2 separate regions of the Homo sapiens genome follow, and region 1 is linked to region 2. Evidence: fine-mapped expression QTL. Tissue or cell type: blood mononuclear cells. Region 2 holds a variant in brackets; the other region holds the start of a gene. All regions are shown on one strand. Distances are from middle to middle.

The links. PIP is the estimated chance that this variant, and not a neighbour inherited with it, causes the effect.
Region 1: it holds the start of RPP40, and the variant in region 2 is fine-mapped to the expression of RPP40 in blood mononuclear cells (TOPMed, PIP 0.99).

Annotation. Positions count from the first base shown.
Region 1 is chr6:5,000,942-5,009,120 of GRCh38, forward strand. RPP40 (ribonuclease P/MRP subunit p40) reads right to left here and starts at 3,096. Exons shown (of 8, transcript NM_006638.4): 1 at 2,939-3,096; 2 at 1,160-1,304. The coding sequence starts at 3,061. It overlaps LYRM4-AS1 (LYRM4 antisense RNA 1), which reads left to right and starts at 2,875. Exons shown (of 4, transcript NR_126015.1): 1 at 2,875-3,018. RefSeq lists silencers at 2,697-2,946, 3,077-3,206, 6,620-6,820.
Region 2 is chr6:5,039,357-5,047,535 of GRCh38, forward strand. The region is part of intron 2 of LYRM4-AS1 (LYRM4 antisense RNA 1); the gene reads left to right. It also overlaps a transcript of LYRM4 not described here. Among named protein-coding and RNA genes, the nearest start is that of RPP40, 39 kb to the left of the region's middle. RefSeq lists an enhancer at 5,266-6,465. The variant A/T (reference allele first, on the strand shown) is at 4,238.

The DNA of each region.
Region 1 (8,179 bases), 38 kb before region 2:
GCATGCAGAAGACCAAGCATGCAGAAGACCAAGCATGCAGAAGACCAAGCTTGCAGAAGACCAAGCTCCAGCTAGTTCACTCCCTGACCAACAGCCTATTTGTGCAAGTTTACTATCATCAAGCAAAAAACTGACTCAGAACGGAACGTGACCTTTGGGGATGCGCGGAGAGGGGTCCAAAGTAGAATTCTAGATAAACATACACCTCTCAGAGACAGAGTTCCAGGTTAAGATTCAAAAGCTACCCAACCTCTCCAAGCCTCAGTTTCCTCACTGTTAAATGAGGATCATAGGCTTGCTTCATAAAGTTGTTGCAAGGGTTAAATTTGGTAAGACATTTAACAGTGCCTGCTACAGCCATTGTCCACGTAATTCACAGAGTGGTGTCAGGCCTTGAAATAGATGAAAGGAATAACGGTGATGAGACCAGACAAGATGCCCAGCTCATAAGTCGCCCCAGCAGTGTCAGAATGAGAGGAGCTACTGGTAACTAGAGTTCTTCATATCTTCACTGGAGAGGACACACATGGGGGCTACCACAAGATAAGCATGTGGCCACTGTACAGGTGAGTTATGTAGTGTGGGTGGAATCCCTAAAGGCCCTCTGAAATAGTTTCAAACAAATGGCTCCCAGGAATCAACTGAAACAAACCAGTCCAACCCAGCAGATATGGGTGGAAATGGGGTGAGTAGAGGAGGGGTTATGGCTACAAAATCTAAGCAGAAGACACTGGACCCCAACAAGCACTTTGCTCTGTGAACAGTAGCTGTGGCTGTATCGGGAGACCAACCCTCTGAGACAGCTGCTGTGGGACTGCTGACAGCATAGTGTCTTTGCAGCCACATCTTCAACAGCAGTGCATCTGAACACAGACTGCAAGTCTCTCCTCTCCATTAATCCTCATTTTAAGGGGACGGATACTGTCATGTTACAACATCCCCATCCAACACTTGTGGCCAATTGCAATCAGAAACCACCACCTAAAGAGGGTACAAGAAAGAACAGGATGAGAATGCGGGGGAGAACGCGTGTGCACCTGACCACACAGACTATACCACAGGCCCTGTTTGAAACAAAACAACAGCCCTAGCATCGTGATGTGGTCTCCCTACCCTTCCTCATCCAGCCTTGTTCACAGCCATTTCAGGTTTTTCTTACCTTTCTTTATAAAGGTACTGATGAATTCAGGTGTAATTAATTCATGAAGAGGTAAATTCTTCACAAAGTAATAGGGTCCAGTGTTCATGACCAGGTTTTTCAGTTCTTCCGATAGTATCCCACATTCAGGAATGAGAAATGAAACCTATTGGAATGTGTAATACAAACAAGGTCTTACTTCCATGAAGATGAACACCCAGGTTTTTAGGAATGAAACAAAATCATGAAAGTTGTTATTTCTCCACGAGTTTCACTGGAACATAAAAACACGGGCAACAAAACTCTTATGTTAACTTACCTATCTCAGGCAAAGAGAAATCTGACTACTTAAGTTTTTCATTTCTGCATTCAAACGTACAGTACAGGAAGGGGATTGAACAGAATACTTTTAATGGAAAACTCGTGCTTGCATTTAATCTTTTGCAAATTAGCAATGCTGTATATTTTATGTCCTGTTCCTTTCACTATTTTATTTTCAAGGAAATATAGTATAATTGAATATCCCTTGATTTGTTTACCCTGGTGTTATCCTGGAATGAAACAAACTATCTGTCGGGGCATAAGGAATTAATTTATGGACATCCAATTACTAAGAATCTATGTGCAAGCAATGGTGCTCCTGTATGTTTTCATTTTCGAGACAGAAAAATGCAACAGGCGAGTTAAAGTATACATCCCTGACTGCTGTGATGAGCTTGACATCCAAAATAGGTGTTAAAAACAGGGCAGGCTTCAAATGTTGCCACATTGTAAAAGTCATCACTGTCCCAAGGCTCAAACACCAGCCTGTTCTGACTGATCAGGTCACCACTTAACATCTCTGAAACACTGCTCAGTCAAACCTGAGTTATTAAGCTGATCCATTTAAAGTGTAAAATGTTTAATCCCCCATGATAAGGTTAGTTTCTTGAAGTCTCTCAGATATCAAATTAGTTCCAACAACCAATTTAGAAAATCAGTCGCTTCGGCCGGGCGCGGTGGCTCACGCCTGTAATCCCAGCACTTTGGGAGGCCGAGACGGGCGGATCACGAGGTCAGGAGATCGAGACCATCCTGGCTAACACGGTGAAACCTCGTCTCTACTAAAAATACAAAAATTAGCCGGGCGTGGTGGCGCGCGCCTGTAGACCCAGCTACACGGGAGGCTGAGGCAGGAGAATGGCGTGAACCCGGGAGGCGGAGCCTGCAGTGAGCCGAGATCGCGCCACTGCACTCCAGCCTGGGCGACAGAGCGAAACTCCGTCTAAAAAAAAAAAAAAAAAAAAAAGGAAAATCAGTCGCTTCCTGGGCCGAGCCTAGGCAGGATGCTCTGGTGAGATCCACAGGTACGCAGGTGGGAGAGGGATTCAAGCTGGGGAGGAGGCAGTGGTGGGGAGGAGGCGCGAGACCCGCCCTGATTTGGGGAAAAAGCGAGGTGCACGTGGCTGCCCCACAGCCTAACTCCCTGGTCCCGGCCCTGAACCTCGAATCCCTCCCTGGACTCACTCCCAGTTCGGCGGGTTGACACGAGTGAGCAGCCAGAACGCCCCTGACAACAGCTCCCTCCAGACTGGGTACCGCCCCCACGCCCGGCGCATCCTGGGAGTTGTAGTCCTGTAGCCCTGCAAGCCACTGGCTTAGAGCAGTTAAGAGACTACAACTCCCAGCAAGCCGGGCGAGGGCCCCGCCCCTCCGCGTACCGCCGGCGGCCCCGCCCCGCGAAGCCTAGCACTCTCCCCAAACCTCTCTCGCACGCGGGGACTGAGCACGGCCCGAAAAGCCGAGGACAGCCGGACTCACCCTGTAGTTATAGTAGTGCGTCTGCACAAGATGCCGGTGGCGCGACTTGTGGTTGCCGAAGTTGGATTTCTCGCAAACCAGTAAGTGCCGCGGCGCCTCCCGAAGCCGGCGCAGCGTGGCCATGCTCTCCTGGGTTCCTGGTCCTCCCGGCCTCCGCTGGCGGGGCACGCCCCGCCCCTTCCTCCCGCCCCGCCCCTTCCCTCCGGCCGCATACCCGCTGCTGTGCGCCCCTGGCGGCGGTGGAGTGGGGATGGCGGCGCTGGATTTCTGAGCAGTTCTTAGACTTCTTAGGAGCCCACGCAGCCGCTCTTTGGTGGATGTCTGAAGCTGTAAATTCACTGTCCCAGTGGCTGGGAACCTGGCTCTTGCCTTTTCAACGCCACTTTTCCTCCGTCCCCGCCATCCCTTGGAATTGCCCTAAACCCTCTCTGTGGGCCCCGCCTCGGAGCGCCCCTTGGACCCCAGCCTGGCGCCGGCGCATACCTCGGTCAGGCCCCTCAGAGGGACCGCTTCCTGCCACCGTTATAAAAGGAAAACATCGCATGGAAAGGCCCAGTTCCTTTAGTATATGGTCAAGAAATGTAGCCGCACAGTTAAGTAACCCCCTAAGCTGCTTTGGGGGCCACACCCAGCTGCTTTCTGACTTCTCACACTGTTTGGTTCACAGGACTCTGTTACCCATTGGGGACCTCTTGGCCATTATTAACACAGGCCAACAGGACTAAAAGTTTGTATCAGTCCTTCCCAAAACATTAGGGAAGGTTGTGCGGGAAGGTAAAGCACAATTTTTGCCTTACAATAGGACTCCTTTGAAACTACTATTGAGTTCCCTTTTAAATAGCCCTTCAGAACCGCTTTTAATAATGTGTTGTTTCTGGGGGTTAATAGTGATAATTCTCCTAAGTCATTTTTCCATTTCGTTTTTCTGTCACGGGCTTGGAGCGGTTAAGAGACTGCGGCTCCCAGCATGCGGTACGTTACTGATCAGGGCAAAATCAAGTATGTTACTACATGCTTCTCAAACTAGAGAGGCACAGCCCCAATTCTGCACTGGCAGGATACAAAACAGCAGAATATTGGTGATACATCTTCCTGGAACATCAGTTTTTCTATGAGATGTGGAAGAAATGGAATTAAGTAGTTTACAAGGTAAATAATTAAGAATTTAAAACTAAGCCAGTCACAGTGGGTCATGCCTGTAATCCCAGCACTTTGGGAGGCTGAGGTGGGAGGATCACTTGAGCTTAGGAGTTCAAGACCAGCCTGGGCAATATAGTGAGACCCCATCTCCAAAAATAAAAATAAAACTAAGACAAGGCTGGAAAGTCATCTGCCATTATAAACATCAGTAATCTGGCCGAGCACAGTGGCTCACGCCTGTAGTCCCAGCACTTTGGGAGGCTGAGGTGGGAGGATCACTTGAACTCAGAAGTTCACGACCACCCTGGACAATATAGTAAGACCCCATCTCAAAAAAAAAAATTAAAACTAAGACAAGGCCGGAAAGTCATCTGCCACTAAAAACATCGGTAATCTGGCTGAGTGCTGTGGCTCACGCCTGTAGTCCCAGCAATTTGGGAGGCCGAGGCGAGCAGATCGCCTGAGGTCAGGAGTTCAAGACCACCCTGGCCAACATGGTGAAACGCTTTCTACTAAAAATACAAAAATTAACAGGGTGTGGTGGCGCATGCCTGTAATCCCAGCTACTCAAGAGGCTGAGGCAGAAGAATCACTCGAACCTGGGAGGCAGAGGTTGCAGTGAGTCAAGATCTCGCCACTGCACTTCTAGGCTGGGCGACAGAGTGAGACTCTGTCTCAAAAAAAAAAAAAAAGTCAAAATGTAATCTATGACTGAAATGTCACATTTTCTTTCCAAGGAAAAACCTAATGAGAACCTGTTTCCCATTATTTTAAACAGCAGAATTATAAGGCGTGGCAAGTTAATTAAAAAAAACCCTACTAATTTCCTAGATCACAATATGGCAGCTAGATGTTTTATAAATAACAGCTACTAATAACATGTTAAGATGTAAAAGGCTTAAAGCATTGCTTCTTGGTCACCTCATATTTAATGTAATTGTCACCAGACAGTTGCTTTGTGTGTGGTAGCAGTGGCCCAAGACTGAAACATCACGGATGTACCTCTCCTTTGTCGACATTCCAAAACTCCACAAAGTGACTGGTGTGATCCTGATGGTCTACCAATTGTATTTGGAAGCACCGTGAAGCTTTTCCAGCAAACCATTTAGTTTAAAATGTTGCATATTTTGAAGATGCAAAATAAATTCTATCTATGTAAATATCAGCTGAAAAATGTATTGAGAGATATAAACTGCCCTCTTCTCAAGAGAGACCCCACAGAGTCTTGCAGCTTTAAGTCCTCCTCTCTGGCTGCTGATAACCCCTAGATGTGGCGCCTCTTCCCTGAGCGGAGTATCCAGATGACTCTAGTACAAGGACTCACCCCTGACTTCTTCCCTTCTCACCCGCCATGCAATCCCACAGTAAGTCTTGTGGCCCTGCCTGCAGCACGCATCCTGATTGCAGCCTCTTCTTGCTCTCTGCGTTTCTACAGCCAGTTTCAGCCACCTTCGTCACTTACTGGCCTGCTGCCCAAGACTGCCTCCAAACCTTCTCCTTGCTGCCTCTCTTGCCCTCCCACAGTCCATTCTCCACTCAGCATCCAGAGTGATCTCTTAAAAACATGAAAAACATAATATACCCCCACAGCCCCATTTAGACCCTACCACTGGCTTCTCACTGTGATGGAATAAAAGCTTACACATTGGCCTGAGCCTGCCTCTTCAGCCTCATCTCCTTCCCTTGCTTATTCACACTCTGTCTGTCAGATTTTCTGGTCTCTAGAGCTGAAAGCAGTCTTAACTGACAAACAGATATTAGATCATAGAATCTAGAGCACAGGGTATGGAAGGAAAAGTGCAAGATGGAAAAGCCAGAAATGGTTAAAAAAAAAAAAAAGCACATGAAACAAAACATATCTATATGTATACCCAAAATAGTAACATAATTTTGAAAAATCTGAGCTAATAGACTTGCAAAGAAATAGAAATATCTTTGATCATATTCTGAAAACAAAAAAATATAGACTTAGTAAATATAAAAGGACAAAAATTTTACACATCCCATTTCCGGGCCATAATGCAATAAAGTTAGAAAGAACAGAAACAGAATTGGCCGGGTGCTGTGGCTCATGCCTGTAATCCCAGCACTTTGGGAAGCCAAAGCGGGTGGATCACGAGGTCAAGAGATCGAGACCATCCTGGCCAACATGGTGAAACCCTGTCTCTACTAAAAATACAAAAACTAGCTGGGTGTGGTGGCATGCGCCTGTAGTCCCAGCTACTTGGGAGGCTGAGGCAGGAGAATCACTTGAACCCGGGAGGTGGAGGTTACAGTGAGCCAAGATCTTGCCACTGCACTCCAGCCTGGCAACAGAGTGAGACTCTGTCTCAAAAAAACAAACAAAAACAACAACAAAAAAAAAAAACAGAGAAAGAAACAATTTAAAGATGCTCAACTCTTTGACAATGTTAAAATATTCTTTTAAATAAATTAATGCCTGGGTCAGGGTGCAAATCCAAAACACAATGACAGTGTCCATAAACTTCTGTGCTTGTAAATGTATCATAACCATATACAGGCCGTATTGGTGAAAGGAGACAGCTGTCTGACTCAGAAACACAGGGAGTGATCAGGTTATGTTCATTAGGATCCTAGCACTGCCCTGGAGTTGTTTAACATCATCTCTTTACAGTTAGGAGCAGACTGCAGGGAAATGTATCTATTGCAGACAACTGTGCTAAATCAGAGGCCGCCCTCCTGCTGAACCTGAACTTGACCTCACAGTTCCTGTCAGCACAGGGTTCTAGGCAGCTGCTACAAATCAACTGGTGTTGGCTTACAGATTGAAACTGCCCTCAGACAGCAGAGTGGAAACTGGCACCAATGGCTGCAATGGAGAAAATTAATGGCCTGTGGGCCACACACGGTGGCTCATGCCTGTAGTCCCAGCACTTTGGGAGGCCAAAGCGGGTGGATCACTTGAGGTCAGGAGTTCGAGACCAGTCTGGCCAACATGGTGAAACTCTGTCTCTACGAAAAATACAAAAGTTAACCGGGTGTGGTGGCGCATGCCTGTAATCCCAGCTACTCAGGAGGCTGAGGCAGGAGAATTGCTTGAACCCGGGAGGCGGCAGTTGCACTGAGCCGAGATGGTGCCACTGCATTCCAGCCTGGGCAACAGAGTGAGGCTCCATCTCAAAAATAATAATAAAATAATAATAATAATAATAATGGCCCCTGCTATGGTCTGAATGTTTGTGTTCCCCCAAAGCTCATGTATTGAAATGCAATCACCAATGTGATGGTATGAGGAGGTAGGGCATTTGGGAGGTTAGAAATGGGATTCATGCACTTATAAAGGAAGCCTCAGAGAGCTGCCTTTCCCCTCCTTCTATATGAGGACAGAGGGAGAAGATGCCATCTAATGAACAAGAAAGCGGCCCCTCCCCAGACACTGAATCTGCCAGTGCCTTGATCTTGGACTTCCCAGCCTCCACAACTGTGAGAAAGAAAAGTCTGTTGTTTATAAGTTACCCATTTTATGATGTTCCCTTATAGCAGCACAAATGGACTAAGACAGCCCCCAAGAAGAATGTATGACCCACCTAAGAACTAGACAGTGTCATTTTCTCCTGGGCTGCTCTCTCCGTGACTGGAGTGGAGATCAGTGAAGGACACAAACATTAACCATGGCAGCTCCATAGGCCATATCGCTGTACGGAGGTGCACAAATGAAGTCATGCCTTAAAAGCAGAACATGGCCAGGCATGGTGGCTCATGCCTGTAATCCTAACACTTTGGGAGGCTGAGGTGGGAGGATTGCTTGAGCCCAGGAGTTGGAGACCAGCCTGGGCAACATGGTGAGACCTTGTCTCTATAAAAATAAAAATAAATTAGCTGGGCCTGATGGCGCATGCCTGTAGTCCCAGCTACTCAGGAGGCTGAGGTGGCAGGATCACTTGAGTCTGGAACTTTGAAGCTGCAGTGAGCTATGATCACGCCGTTGTACCCCAGCCCAGGTGGCAGAACAAGACCCTGTCTCAAAAAAAAGCAGAACACAAAACAGTCTGTGGTCTGATTAAAGCTTTGTCACACATGCTCATAAAGAAATTTGGAAGAGAATTTGGAAATGGCTGAAATTTTTTCATAAAGATCATT
Region 2 (8,179 bases):
AGACAAACATATTCCTGCTTTCATGAAAGTTAAATAGTATGTGTTCAATCAACCTGTTTCCCCATTTTTTAGAACAATGAAGAGCAGGGAAGGGGTGGAATGAGGGTCAAAAGTAAGTCCTAGAGTCCTGCCCCAAAGTTTTCCAATTACAATCTAAAGTAACAACCTTATGCCACCAAATTCGCAATTTGAACATTGAAAACGGCAATTACCTAACTAAGCAAGCTGTGAGTCCCTGCTTTCTGATATTTTGTAATCCTGCTATCATCTGTGAAACATCATAATTATAATAATAAAAATCGGAAACAGAGAAAGGGAGCATTCTGACATCCAATTAAAAATTAACACTAAATAAGTCAAACTCCCCACAGAGTTTTAGATATGAAAATTGAAAATCTGATCTAAAATTTAAATGAGGTGAAAAGGACCAAGAAAAGCCAAGACATTCTTAAGAAGAAAGAACTAAATAAAAGAAATTCACTTACAGATGTAAAGACTTAATATAAAGCTACAAGAATTAAAGGAGTAATGTTGAAACAAGAATAGAAAATAGACCAATAGAAAAGAACAGAGCCTAAAAACAGACCCACACACGTGTGGACACATATCTGTGACAAAGGAAATACTATAGATTAGTGATTAAAAATATATTTAAGAAATTAATCCTGATAGATCAATTAGATAGCCATATGCAAAAAGAAAATCTTAAAACATATCCTAAACTATCCACAAAAATCAATTTCAGAAGGAATGTAGCTTTAAACAGCCTGGGCAACATAGCGAGACCCCATCTCTACAAAAAATATTAAAAAATTAGCTGAGCATGGTGGCGCACGCCTGTAGTCCCAGCTACTTCGGAGGCTGGGTGGGAGGATTGCTTGAGCTCGAGAGGTTGAGGCGAGCTATGATCATGCCAGTGCACCCCAGCCTGGGTAACAGAGTGAGGCCCTATCTCTAACAATAGATAGATAGATAGATAGATAGATAGATAGATAGATACATACATACATACATACATACATACATACATACATACATAAAGAAATTTCTTTTAAAGAAAGAAGGCTGGGCATGGTGGCTCATGCCTGTAATCTCAGCATTTTGGGAGGCCCAAGTGGGAAGATTGCTTGAGCTCAGGAGTTCAAGACCAGCCTGGGCAACATAGGGAGACCTCATCTCTAAAAGAAAAAAAAAAGAAGAAATAAGATTTAGTGTTCCATAAATGAGTTGAGTGACTATAGAAAACAATAATCTATTGTATATTTCAAAACAGCTTCAACTTCGAGAATAATTTGAATGTTTTCAGCATAAAGAAAAGATAAATGTTTAAGGTGAGGATATCCCAATTACCCTGATTTGATTATTATACATTATATGAATGTACCAAAGTATCACATTACCCCCAAAATATGTACACCTACTACGTATCAGTAAAAACCTGACTATATAAAACCTAATTAATAGAAGGATTATCTTTACTGCTTCTCCATTTGACAATCCAATTTTGTCAAAATTTGGGGAAACAGAAAAAAAAAATGGTGCCTGATGGTGGATTACCGCAACTCTAATCTGTGGTTCCATGCATAAAGAGCCCCATATGCGAGACCAAAATTCAGACTTGACCATGTTCTTTGAATAGCTTCTTAAGAAGTTACAGTTAGCTGGGCATGGTGGTGGCCCGTGCCTGTAGTCCCAGCTAATTGAGAGGCTGAGGCAGGGATTCACTTGAACCCAGGAGGTGGAGGTTGCAGTGAGTGGAGATCACTCCACTGCACTCCAGCCTGGGTGACAGAGTGAGACTCGTCTCAAAAAAAAAAAAGTTACACCTAGGTGTGTATTTTGGCACAAAGGAGTGACAAACTTATAGTTAAAAGCTCAATAACTTCAGTGTGGTGTAAATGTGGTTTATAGGCTATGTTTGTGATTGCTAAAAATAATTCTAGTTTACCTCAAAATCCTTCTGTTTCCCAAAATTAAGTGCCTGGCCAGCTGTCATAAATTACATATTCCGTTTGGTTTTTTGTAAAGGTTACATGTTCAAGACTGTGAAAATAAGATGTTCTCTCTAAAGGCTACTATGCCTGGTCTGTAAATGAACCTGTTAAATGCTGTATTTGCTCCACCAGCTTACTATAGAATGTTACTTAATACAATATCATACTTATTACAGTTTTTACTATAGGAGTGTAATACGTAAAATTAATCTCTATTTTAATGGGCCCATGTTTCGTCTTTCACCATCCTTTAAACTGCTGTGAATTTTTTTGTCATGACTTGAAAGCAAGGATAGAGAAACACTTTAGAGATATCTGGGTTTTTTTCCCATTCCAGAACTTGTGAGTAAAATCATATTTGCTTGATATTTATAGTCATGAACTCCTAAGCTGGCAGCTACAACCAAGAACCAAAATATGGTGCATTCTGCTTCTTGTAATTCATCTCTGCTAATAAACTATAAGAAGCAAGGAAAATTAGGGAAAATATTTTATTTGGATGGTTTCTATAAACAAAGGACTATAATTCTTGTACATTATTTTTCATTTTTGCTGTTTCTTTGAGCAGTCTTATGTGCCACACAATGATTTAAGGTATTTGTTTTCTATAAGAATTGTTTTAAAAGTATTCTTGTTACCAGAGTAGTTGTATTATATTTCAAAATGGAAGATGATTTTTAAAAGCCTGAGTACTGATCTAAGATGCAATTGTATGAACTCTACTCTGGAGGGAGGGGAGGGTGTCCGTGGAAATTTTAAGACTTTTATTTTTGTGTGTCATCAAATATAGGTAAAAATAATTGCGCAATTCTGCTGTTTAAACAGGAACTATTGGCCTCCTTGGCCCTAAATGGAGGGGCTGATATTTCAAGTTGATTATTTTATTGTAAAATAATCCAACCTAATTTTTTTTAATTTGGTTGAATGTTTTTCTTGTTAAATGATGTTTAAAAAAATAAAAACTGGAAGTTCCTGGCAAAAAGAAAAGCCCCATATGCAATATTCAGTATTATTAAAATAATCGGCACCACCCAGTCAATGACTGGTATTTTATTATTACAGATTTGGCTGCTGTGTTCTGTTCATTGCCTCCTTCAACAACCTTTCAGCACAGTTTGCCTTCACCTCTAACGGGTCACAATTTACCTTTTCTAGGCTACCCATGGGGACCTCAACAGCTTTGCCATTGCACACTATCTTTGCAGACAAGATCTTAATCACATCCAACTTTCTGCAGTTGCACAGGGTACCTCAGACCCACATCCCAGATGACATTCCTCAGAAGCTCGCAGCTGGAGATGACATCACCTTAGACAACATCACCCTAGCCCAAGACATCGCTATTAGAGATACATCACCTGGACACTAAAGCCTCCAACCCAGTGACACTCTCAAGGTGCTGACAAAATGGACATGGACATTTGTTGCTTTTCTTCTTTTGAATTAGGAACTCTATTGTGTTTCCTGAATTTACTGTCTGCTTGGCCCATGATCCTGGTATGTTCCTTGCTCTCTGCCAAAACATGCACCGTCCCCTCCACACCTAAAGGAAAACCTGGTAGAAGCTACTACTCTCAATGCCATTCTAAAATTGACGAAGAGTATTATTTTCCCCAAGAGGCAGCTGCTGCAGGCCAGTGAATCCTCTGGACCCTGGGGAGAGGGTCATACACTCCCTAGTGACTTCTACTGTATGCTCCAGCTTTCCACCAGGACCTCCTGCCCTGTCCCCAACTGTAACGACCACAACCACCCCATCCCCTTGGTTACACACAAATATCACCAGTCTTTACATGTACTTTACTGACTTCTCAGATAATACCCTCCAACAAGATAACTGCAGGACTTGCCACCATGACCTGAGAAATACACCAAGATATTATTGTCCAATTTTTTTGAGATATATATATATTTCTCATACTTTTAACATACTCTGCAATCCACCAAGATATTGGTAGAGACCCTGGAAATTTCAAATCTATTTCGTCTGCTAATGCCATGTGAATGGGAAACTTAGATACAGGCTGGCCTACAAGGACTCCTTATACTTCAATTTTTGTTCCTCCTTTCAACTCTCATAAAAAATATTTTCTGTACTATTTAGGGCAAATGATGGCCTTCTTTCTAAGTCTCATCCATCATTGCTGCAAAGGTGCCTTAGTTTGATGTTAAAGTGTCACAGGGCCAATGTATTGACCATGTTTCTGGCGTCTATAAAGTCGATGTTTTAATATCTGTCCTAC[A/T]TGCATACACCAAACATTCCTTGATCTGGAAAACCCAACAGTATGCTTTGCTTCAGCCTCAGGCCTCCCTTGTCGCCTCCTCTGTGCCACCCCCCATTCCTCGGGAGTCCTCCTCCTCCCAGGGGCGCACTTTTCAAATACAAACCAACCAATCCAGAGCCCACACCCCAACCACCTCCTTTATTGGTCTCTCACATGCTGGGCCACTATCCACTTTCCCTAATCACCCAAAGTCAGGTACCAGACAATTAGGGACAGCCCCTATACCCCAGAGCCTGCTGAAATTAGCAAACTGGCCAATCCCGAGTCTGTTTACTTTGCCTTCCTGTTTCTTCCCAAGGAAATCACAAAAAAAGGCTCTTGTCCACAGCCCCCCTCTCGCTCTGCCTCCTGCTTCCCTGTGCGGCCCTGTGGTGTGGTGCACACCTTCCTCTTGGGAACTGTGTGAAACTATCTCCTAATCCTCTCCGTTGGCCTTAGTATACCTCAAATTTTTTGTATTGATACACTTTTTTTTGTGGGGTTTTTTTTGTTTGTTTGTTTTTTGTTTGTGAGACGGAGTTTCACTCTTGTCTCCCAGGCTGGAGTGCAGTGGTACGATCTTGGCTCACTGCAACCTCTGCCTCCTGGGTTCACCTGTGATTCTCCTGCCTCGGCCTCCCGAGTAGCTGGGATTACAGGCGCACACCACCACGCCTGGTTAATTTTTGTGTTTTTAGTAGAGATGGGGTTTCACCATGTTGGCCAGGCTGGTCTCGAACTCCTGACCTCAAGTGATCTGCCCGCCTCGGCCTCCCAAAGTGCTGGGATTACAGGCGGGAGCCACCATGCCCGGCTGACACACTGTTTTCTTTTAAACAGCTGGGAAACCTCTTATCCTCATCACCAGTGCCAGGGTCCAGCTTCAGGAGGGCAGGGCTCACCTGCTTTACTTCCAGATCACCATGTGCAGCGTGGAGCTTCCCTCTGACGTGTTTGTTGGATTTGTTTCAAAAAGGCGGCCATGGTTTCTTTTTTTCCTTCCTCGGCCCTGATTAATTTCAACAGAAGAAAATGTATCCCCTCTAGTTTGTGATGGAATCCAAGCTTAATTAGCCATTCATGGTGCTAAACTGTCCTGCACTGGATGACCCAATCGCTTCTGATTTTCCAAGCTTGGCTCTCAGACCATCCTGGTGGAAGAAACACTAGCAGTCTGCCCAATCTGAATGCAAATCCAGAATAATCTTTTCTTTTGTTGTTACACAGTTATGAGTGCAATTTTTAAATGGCTGCTACTCTACAGCCTGCCTGCCTTATGCTTTCTCCTGGGCACGCAGGAAAGTGAGAGCTTCCACTCCAAAGCAGAGATCCTAGTGACACTAAGTCAGGTAATAATCTCTCCAGCTGGACCTCATGCACTCACATGGACAACACACTTCTCTCCTTCAGTGATCATCATCCTTGTACCATGTTGGTGGCATGCTGTAATCGTGACTCAACATCCGGTTGCCAATTGCTATGTAACAAACCACCTCAACATTCAGTGGCTTGAATTGAAAGCAGGGTCTTGAAGAGATATTTGCACATTTCATCCTCCCAGCAGCATTATTCACAACAGCCAATAGGCAGAAGCAACCCAATGTCCAACCATAGATGAGTGGATAACCAAAATGTAGTCCATCCATACAATGAAATATGATTCAGCCTTAACAAGGAAGGAAGTCCCGCCACGTGCTACAACATGGATGGACCTTGAGGACACTATGCTAAGTGAAGTAAGCCAGGCACAAAAGGACAAATACTCTATGATTCCATTTTATAGGGTACCAAAGAGAATCAAACTCACAGAGATAGAAAGTAGACTGGGGTGGCCAGGGACTCGGGGAGAGAGGAAAGGGCAGTTATTGTTTAAAAGGTACAGAGTTTCAGTTTGGGAAGATGAAAATGTTCTGGAAACGGTTAATGGTGATTTTACATTGTTTATGTTACCACGATTTGTAAAAGAGCAGCTGCGCTGAGAATGAGCATGCTTGTCATTGGCAGCTCTCTGAGATTTTCAGTGCCTCTTACTGGCTTGTTAAGAAGACGGCAGATTCCTCTCCCCGTCTGCTTCTTTCATTATAAAATTCCCATTTCCATTTTGCCTCTAGGTAGAAGCTCACGGAACTCAAATGGGAAATGATGATGGCAGGATTTTCCTGCCGAAAAGAGGTGTCTCAAAAGAAAAACATATTGTATTTAACATGGAGAAATGAAATCCTCCAAAGCGAGCTTTATGAACTGAATTACCCAGAACGGACTTACCTCTATTGTCAGTATTTTTCTGCTGCCCCTTTGGGCTTCTGGTGCCTGGATAACTAAAAGAGCAGGACATCGTGCTGCTTAGTGGGCTTTGCAGTGGGAAGCGGGAACGTCTACCTGCATGAGCACGGGGCACTCTGCCCAGAGCTTGGGCACATTCCCCTAGGCACAGGAGTAAGGAAGAAGTCTCCAGTGTAGGTTAGGAAATAGGCCTTCAGCATGAGCTTACCACAGCTTTTTTAAGGAAAAAATTAGTGGCTTAAAATAATATTCCACTTTTTTTTTTTTGAGATGGAGTCTCACTCCGTTTCCCACGCTGCAGTGCAGTGGTGCAATCTCAGCTCACTGCAAGCTCTGCCTCCTGGGTTCACGCCATTCTCCTGCCTCAGCCTCCCGAGTAGCTGGGACTACAGGTGCCCGCCACCACACCCGGCTAATTTTTTGTATTTTTAGTAGAGACGGGGTTTCACCGTGTTAGCCAGGATGATCTCGATCTCCTGACCTCGTGATCCACCCGCCTCGGCCTCCCAAAGTGCTGGGATTACAGATATTCCACTATTTTTTATCATAATTGTGTGGACTGACTGGATTCAGCTGGGTGATTTGCACTCGGAGTCTCTCGCGTGGCTGCCGTCTTCTGAAGGCTGGACGTCCCACATGGCTTCTTTACTAATACATCTGGTGCTTCAGCTGGGACAGCTGGGACAGCTGGCGGCTGCACAGGCATCTCGCTCTTTGCACACAGGCTCCCCATATGCTTAGTTTGAGCTTGGTGATTTTAAAGTAGTTGAACTTAGATGGCAGCTGGCTTCCCTCAGAGTAAATATGCCAAGATACCCAGGTGGAAGCTGTAAGGTTTCTAATGACCTAGTCTGAGATTTCACACCAAGATGGCTTCCGTCATATTCTGTTGGTCAAAAATAAGCCACACGGTGGGGCATGGTAGCACACACCTGTAACGCCAACACTTTGGGAGGCCAAGAAGGGTGGATCGCTTGAGCCCAGGAGTTCGAGACCAGCCCGGGCAACATGGTGAAACCCCGTCTCTACAAAAGAATACAAAAATTAGCTGGGCATGTTGGCACACCTCTGTGGTCTCAGCTACTTGGGAGGCTGCGGTGGGAGAATCTCCTGAGCCCAGGGAAGTTGAGGTTTCAGTAAGCCATGATCATGCCACTGCACTCCAGTCTGGGTGACAGACTGAGACCCTATCTCAAAAAAAATAAAAGCTACAGGTCAACCCAGATTCAAGGGGATAGGATTACACAAAGTCACAGATTCAGGAAGGTATAATTTATTGGGGAACCGTCTTTGGAGACTAGCTACCACAATCTGTCACCATCTTTTAGATAAGACGATCAACATATTTCTGAGTATACTTTAGATTTCCACTATCAGTGCATTTTCTGAAACTTCCCCAGTCTTAGCACTGAAGGTCCTGCACCCCAGGAAATATCTATCAGTCTTTGTCAAACCAGGATGGTTGGTCACCCTACTTTTAGACCTCCTCATTTTCATGAACTCAATATTGCATAAGGTTGATCTTCCAAAAACATGTATCTGCCTTAAAATTGTGATTTCCATCCTGATGAGGTCTCCTCATATTCCTTTGTCTTTCTGGTTTGTATAGGATCCACTTGACTTCAGAGCTGTAGAAAT